Linked DNA regions of Homo sapiens. The protein of the gene in region 2 interacts with the protein of the main gene of each other region in a biochemical or structural test. Each region holds a gene or a part of one and is shown on either strand. Other genes may lie near its edges.

Region 1 (4,271 bases), on a different chromosome or scaffold from region 2:
AGCAAGGTCGGGCGCAGTGGCTCATGCCTGTAATCCCAGCACTTTGGGGGCTGAGGCGGGCAGATCACCTGAGGTCAGGAGTTCGAGACCAGGCTGACCAACATGAAGAAACCCCATCTCTACTAAAAATACAAAAAAAAAAAAAAAAAATTAGCCAGGCGTCGTGGCTAATGCCTGTAATCCCAGCTACTTGGGAGGTTGAGGCAGGAGAATTGCTTGAACCCAGGAGGCGGAGATTGCTGTGAGCTGAGATCTCGCTATTGCACACCAGCCTGGGCAACAAGAGCAAAACTCTATCTCAAAAAAAAAAAAAAGAATCACAAAAGCCTACTACACTAAACATTTCTAGCATACGACTACTCAAGAGTCAAAATTTAAGATACTTCCCATACTATCTTAATTTTTCCTTCTAGTGAATAATATCCTGCATTTACATGTGACTACATTCTCTCTCTCTCTTAATAGACAAAGTCTTGCTATGTTGCTCAAGCTGGAGTCCAGTGGCCATTCACAGGTGCCTTCATAGCACACAGTAGCCTGGAACTCCTGGGGTGAAGTGTCCTCCCTCCTTAGCCTCCCAAGTAGCTGGGACTATGGGCACACACCACCCGGCTTACATTCTCATTTGGCAGTACTTTGTTATCTCCCTAGCTGAAATGATGATTTACCTACTATTTTAAAAAAGAGATAAATAAAGTCACAGATACACACTTTCATTGTTCGGCAGAAAGTAAGCATCTTCTCAAGTGGCTTTGATTATTCTGGGCACGGTTGCATGCATTAATTATGCTTCTCAAATTCCAGTGAGTGATATGCATCATTACTGTCCCTTTACCCACATCAGAATAATGCAGTTTGCTCCAACGGAAGGCATGAAGAATTGAGAATGAGGTGGCTCAACTTTTTACGTTTTAGTTTCCTCACTAGCTAAATATAACCTAGTGAATGAGTGGTACGAAGGAATTTGTCAGAGCTGCTACGAGGTCCAAACATCCTAAGTGAAAGTGCATCTAAAAGTTCAAATTTTAAAATTAATGTAAGGCACTGAAAACGTGAAGAAACATGTATTGAGTACTTATTATAAGTAATGTACCACAGCTTTAATGGTTGTTTAAAAGATGCATTAGGGAGCAATTGAAAATAAAAGGAATAGCTACAGAGTTTGGGAAGGCACAGGGAAAAGAGTGGCTCAGTATCGAAGATAAAATTCGGGAGAAGACACAATCAGATTTTGAGAGATGGACAAGTCAACCTTAGAATAATTTCCCTTATTTAACCTGTCTTTCCCCTAATAGCAGCACACTCATCTTTCAACTTGCTTTTCCCCACGTTACATATATAATTTGGGAGAAGGAACAAAAAAGCTAGGGGAATTGCAATGACCTAATTGAGATATAAAAGATACTCTCTACATTGAATAGTTACAAACACTTAGAAACAGTATGAAAGGAGGCAGAGATACCAACAGCACTGGAACTGACAATGGAGATCAAATCTCAAAAAGCAGTTTTCTATAGCTTAGTCATACTTGGCTCAATTTTTCACTTTTTGTACTTAAACGTATGGCAATTTTTGGTGCTTTATTTAGTAATTACGTCATTTTGCCTGATAATACAATTTCAGTACATTACTTTCCTTAAATCATTTCCCTTTGGTTAAACAGAAAAAGCAGAATTGGTCTTCAGGCAGGTATGCTCAAATCAAATGATCTCCTTTCCCCATCATGGCAATGTTCTTTCAGTGGTCACCTTCCCTTCAATATTCTTTCATGCAGCAAAGTATCTGAGTCTTTAATCTTGTACTAGGAACTGTCCTGGCACCGGGGAAACCACGTCAACAGGGCTCACATGATCCCTGTCCCTGCCCTCAAGGAGACAGACAACAAATAAACGAATACAATAATTACACGGGGATCAGGGCTGTAAAGGGTACTCTACTAAAGTTAGAGGCTGCGGAACTAATTTGAAGAGGATAGTCAGGGAAGGCCACTCTGAGACCGATTTAGGCAGAGACCTGAAGAAAGATGGATTTGGATAAACAGTTTAAGGAGAGGAAGGAGAGTTCAAGGAAGAGGTACCAATTACACTCATGCTGTGTATGTAAAGGAGGAGGGATAAGAAGAACATTCACTCCAGGCATAGAGACCACAAAGTGCATCTTGGAGAAAAATAAGCGCGTTGCAGAGGGTTAGGTGGCCAGAGTAGCTGAAGCTTTAGGAGCAAGAGACATAAAACGAGATTATAAACGTGGGTTAAGTACCACATCATACAGGGCCGTGCAGGCTATGGCAAGGAGTCTAGATTTTATTTAAATGCCAAGAGAAGTAGGATTACTTCGGATAGCTGAATTACACTATCTTTCTTTTTTGTTAAAAGATCACGCGGGTAAAACGAGATGTGTCGAGGAAAAGTTTTAAATGCAGAGAACCTAAGTCAGATGCAAAAATTATGCACTTTTCCGGGCCTCAGGTTTTCCATAAATAAAGCAAGTGGTTTGAACTAGAAGCCATTTCCTTCCCGCTGCGACGTGGTGAGTTCTAAGAGCAGGGGCCGCGTCAGATTGACCATGGAATTCCCCTCATCGACGCCGGCGCCCAGAACACAACTGGCGCCCTGAAACTGTTGGTCAGCGCAATAAATCAATGAATGGCCTGCTACGGGCGTGGGACCAGGCCCCGGCGCCCGCAAAGAACGCGATGGGTCGCGCTGAAGGCCGCGAGAGGCGTCCGGCAAGGAAATAGGGGCCGGCTCCACCACAACCAAAGCGTGCCGAGGAGGGGAACCGGGGCCTTGGAGATTGAGGGCAGAAAAAAATCAGACTAGGGACCCGACACCGGGAATTAGGAGAGAAGGCCGAAACGTGGGTCTGAGAAAGGATTCTGGTTCCAAGCCTGGGGGCCCAGCCACTCACCGCAGCCGTCGCCAGGCTGTGCATGTTGTGAGCGGCCGCCGCTCTCTTCCACAGCCGGACGCGTCCGACCCGCGTCCCCCCTTCAGCACCCCTGCAGCGGAAAACAATGAGCCGCCGTAGCCGCCATCCGACTCCGGCTCGCTCCGCCCACTTCGCGGCCCTCTGACCTCTCACCCCTGACCCCACCCACACATCCTCTTCCCGCCTCCAGGGCCTAGTTAACAGTCCCAGAGTATGTCCTTTGCCCCTTAAGATTTAGGACCGGAAGGACGTCCGCGACCACTAGTCCCCGCAACTTCTGGCTTTGAGCAGTTATTTCCAGAGAGCGGCGTGAACTCTGACCCTCCTCCAAAAGCCAGTGAACGGCGGGAAAAGATGGACAGTCCCGGCAAGACAACTATTGCGCATGCCCGACTGGGTTGCGTAGGAGGGAAATGGTGGGGGGGCGTCGAAATCGGGTGAGGTGGAAAGTGCGCGTGCCTACTACAGTCACGGCAGGGGCGGGGCTGCCCGGGCTAGGCCGCTCTAGGTACTGGCGGGGCGGGGCGAGGGCGTGTGAGGGGCGGAGTTTTCGACTGACGCGCACGCGCCTGTCTGGTCGCGTCGAGTGTGCGTGCGTGCGTGCGTGTTTGCGTGTGGTCACAGTTCCCGCCATCAGCCGCTCTCCCTGACTAGGGGTAGCTAGCGGCCTCCCTCCTTTGGGTTCGGTATCCCTACTTCCATTACCCTCGGCTCCTCCCACTCCTCGCGGGCTCCGTGCTTTCCGCGGGTCTGTCCGGGGGCTCCGGACCCTCGGCGCAGGTAAGGCGGGCCGGGGTAGCTTCTCAATTGAGCCGTTTTCCCTACCTCCTCCTCCTTCTGTGCGATCCGCCCACTCGGCGTTCACTCCTCTGGAGTTCGCCCTGCTGCTACTCAGCCCGCCCACAACCCCTCGATGCACCCCCAGCCTCACAGGTACTACCTTTGGGTGCACTGCCCCGGCTTCCACCTCTCCTTTGACTTGGTCTCCACTGCCACTCGCTCCCTCCGAAACTCAAACCTGGCCCCTTTTCTCTGGGGCTGTTGTCGTTCGCCTCTTACCTTCTAACAGGGCCTGCTGTCTCTTCAGGTGACTTTCGTTACGGCACATCCACCAGGCCTTGGACATGATACTCATTCACTCTCTTGACCATCTTCACCTTCCTCTTGACCAGTCCTCACTGCAAAACATGAATTGTATTTTTGTTGTGCATTTCCTTGCGCCCATTTCTAGCCGCCAGATCAGGTTGTTAGATGTAACTATTTTAAGTCATGATCCATGAAAGGAAATGATGATTGATGATAAAATCCTGTGTCCTGAAGAGTTGTCCTAAAGTGGTTTT
Region 2 (3,817 bases):
ATGGTTTTGAGCAACTCAGTAGTTGGTGTTATCATATACTGAAGTGGCAAAGACAAGAAAAGCAGATTTCGCACAAGGTAAAAATCAAGAATTCTGTTTTAGCCATGCTAAATTTGTGATGCTAAGCCCATTTTTAAGTGGACAAGTTCAACAAGGCAGGTTTTGAGTCACTGCCATAAAAGACATGAGCATATAAGGCCATAGGACTGGAGGAGATCTCATGAATGGACAAAACAGCTGGAGAAAAGAAGGCACTCCAGCAAGCAAAGGAAGAGGAAGAGCAACCAGCAGAGGAAACTGACAAGGAGGGGTCCTGTGATGTAGGAAAGGAGAATATGATATCACAGAAGTCAAGGCAAGAAAGTTTTTCAAGAGAGAGGCAGCGGCCAGATAAGTAAAATATTGATGTGAGATTGAGTTTGATGTGCACTGAGATGTGACTATGGGATTTAACTGCTTGGAAGTCACTCTGATCAGTTACCGACAAGCACTGTTTCAGCGAATGTTGGGGATGGAAACCTGACTGGAGGTTGAGAGACAATGAAAGATGAAGAAGTGAAGACAGAAAATACAGACAATTCTTTCATGTTTTGCTGTAAAGGAGAGAGCATAAAAATGAGACGACGGTTAGGAATACCAATGGGAATGATAAAGAGAGGATATTAGTGATGGATGAAGAGTGATGGGGGTATTACAGCGATAGGCAACAAAGTCCCTAAGAAGTCAAGAGGGGAAAGGGATCCAAAGCACAAAAGGAGATTTTGGCACATACAGGAGTGAGGGTTTGTCTTCTTTTGCAACAGAAGGGAAAATAGGGGGTGTGTGAACAAACACAAAGGGGTTGGAAGATCTGTGGATGGAAAAATGAGGAAATTCATGTTCCCACTATCTCAGCTGCTTATCTTTTGTCATCAAATATGAGGTGAAGTTATCAGCTGAAAACGAGAAGGGAAGTGGGTTACAGATTTGAGAAGACAGGAGAATAAAGCAGTAATTTTGAAAAGTGAGAAAGCTAATTTACTAGGGATAGGTAGCAGATTGCTATACATTGTTGAGTTCCTTTTCCAGGTCTGTGGTTTCTAATGCAAAGTAAGATTAATTAACGTAGGTGTGTATTTTTCTTATCAATATTTAGCTGTGGAGACTCAGGAAGGAAGTAGATGAGTAGTTTGGTTTACCCAGAGTTGGGGTTTTGCCAAGGAGGAAGAGACAGGGACTGATGATAACAAATGACCACGAATAATAAGGGAAACAAGTACACAAGCGGTAATGATAACAGTGAAAAAGTGATAGGGTCAACAAAAATGTCTCCATGAGGTTGAAGTAATGGTAGAGAATAAGTATGATAGAAACAGGATCAGAGAGTGGGATGCTTATAGTCAAGATACTAAAGGTGGTATAACTGCCTTCTCTAATGTTTTGTTCTGGGCCATCTTATCTGATGTGTTCTATTTTCTCTCTCAATCTCATGTGTCACATGGCATTAACATCTATTCTATGCTGACAACTCCCAAGTCTCCCTCTGTAACTGGAGTCAGTAAGTGGCAGAGCTTAGGCTCTGACAGACAAACCTGGGGCCAACTCCAGTTCTGCCATTTATTGAGCAGTCTGACCTTGGGTAAGCCCTTTAGCTACTGTGGGCATCAGTTTCTGCCTCTGAAAACTGTGGCTTAACCTAGTAACCTTTTCATTCAGGTTTAAGATAATATAATGGATGTCAGCACAGACACTTCTACATAGCAATCCCTCAAAAAAAAAAAAAAAGGTAATATTACTATATCCAAGTGCCTAGGAGCCGACTACATATAAGGATCCTGCAGCTGCCTCAACCATAATTTGGCCTCCACTACACACTTGCTCCTCTTCCTGCACACCCTCCCACCTAAGTTAATGAGATCACTACTTCTCCACTTGAGCTACAACAGAGCTATCTCTGAATCACTCTTTTTACTTATCCTCACCATCCAAACTGTCACCAGACGCTGGTATTATACATTAAGTCTAAGAAGCCACAGATTTGAAGATTCACCAATATTTTATGTATCACTAAGAATGAAAAACTGTCAATTACAATTGTTAAGATACAATCAGATTCCAGAGATGTTATAATTTGAAAAAAAATGTACATCTCAGAATAGTCAAAACATGACAAATCTACCTCCAAACATTCTTTCACCTCTCATCTATCCTTTCCTTTGCATCTTCACCCCAATGAATTTAAGGTTCTCATTCTTTTGTCTTTGATCTACTGCAATGACCACCTCCCAAGCTTCCAAATGTTCATTTCAGTACATCTTTCACAATGATGCCAGAGCTACCTTCCTAAAATATGAATAAGCAGCTTTCACTCCTCTCCTACAAAACAGTAATGATTTTTTTCCTGCTCATAGTTCGAGGTATAGCCTTCAAAGAACATAATCTAATTCTTAAACAGCCATTTCCCTTGACCTACCATTTCAATATTTGACACAATGCACACTTCAACCTCACAGGTCTACTTATGTTCACCAATAAGAATATGAACACTGGGGGCTCCCTGTTTATGGGGCTCCCTATTTATAGAGCTTCCATTTCTCAGCTTGATATATCCTCCTGGTCTCTCCATCCTCCTGACAGTAATAAAAAAAAAATTCCTTCCCTCCTTTTAAGATGCAAATAAAATGCCACCTCCTCTGCAAGCCCTTCATTAATCTTTTTCAGAATTAACCAAGTCTTTGATAGGGCACTCTCTGTTCATTTATTTAATGTTCACCTCTTTCTGCATTGTGCTGTACTTAGAAACTGCTTACATCCTGTCTTCCTTATTAGATTTCAGGCTCACTGACAATAGGGTGAGTGTCCTTCTCATCTCTAACAACTGCAAGATTAATAAAAGTGAATTTTGATGTACTATAATGAAAGGCTGAGATAACAATCCTAAAAGTGCTTCAAGCAGCAAAAGGTCAACAGCCACTGTCAAACTGTAAAAAAGCAAAAGTTTAACCTCCCCATTTAATATGACAAAATGATACAGAACCACCACCACAGGCCGACTGCTTGGCTCTGTCTGCTAAGAGTCATTAACAATGTCACCCACAGGAAAGTTTTCTGCACCTTTGGATACCTGGTATTATCACCACCTTTGTGTTGGGAAGATTTCGGAAACAGGTGACTAATTCATTTCTTTGGAAATGAATATTGGAATGAGTATTTATCAGATGATGATTTCTAGACAACTCAATGAATTTATCTTACGAGAATAGAAATTTCTAAAGAACTACTAAAACAAGTTACTTGTTATATATTTGACTGTAATCTGTGGTAGCAAAACACAAAGAATCTAGCACCCATCCTCTTCTACCCAGATCCTGCTCTGGGTAGAACAAAACACACACATAATTTTCTTTAATAAGATCTTCCCAAGACAAAAAAAAAAAGGTCATCATTTGTCACATTATTAGACTTTCTATCCAATTTACTCTCAAATGAGACCCGTGGCAATAAAACAGTACTCATGAAATAAAAATGCAAGACAAAAAAATGGCAATGGTAAGTGACATACAATTCCAAACTCATCTGGAGTAAGCATAGTAAAGTGGTATCCTAGGGAGCGGTCCCCAACCTTTTTGGCACTAGGGACTGGTTTCGTGGAAGATAATTTTTCCACAGACTGGGGGGTTTCACCTCAGAACATCAGGCATTAGACTCTCCTAAGGAGCACACAATCTAGATCCCTTGCATGCACAGTTCACATTTGGGTTCATGCTCCTATGAAAATCTAATGCTGCCTCTGATCTGACAGGAGGCAGAGCTCAGGTGGTAATACTATCTCACTCCC

The links.
Region 1: the proteins of OBI1 (region 2) and CNOT9 form a complex in vitro, tested with the Homo sapiens proteins (one study listed by BioGRID).

Annotation. Positions count from the first base shown.
Region 1 is NC_000002.12:218,567,618-218,571,888, reverse strand, and holds the start of CNOT9 (CCR4-NOT transcription complex subunit 9), read right to left. Parts: upstream 3,051-4,271; 5' UTR 2,935-3,050; coding exon 2,911-2,934; intron 1-2,910. UniProt on the Homo sapiens protein: Component of the CCR4-NOT complex which is one of the major cellular mRNA deadenylases and is linked to various cellular processes including bulk mRNA degradation, miRNA-mediated repression, translational repression during translational initiation and general transcription regulation.
Region 2 is NC_000013.11:78,648,995-78,652,811, forward strand, and holds part of OBI1 (ORC ubiquitin ligase 1), read right to left. Parts: intron 1-3,817. UniProt on the Homo sapiens protein: E3 ubiquitin ligase essential for DNA replication origin activation during S phase.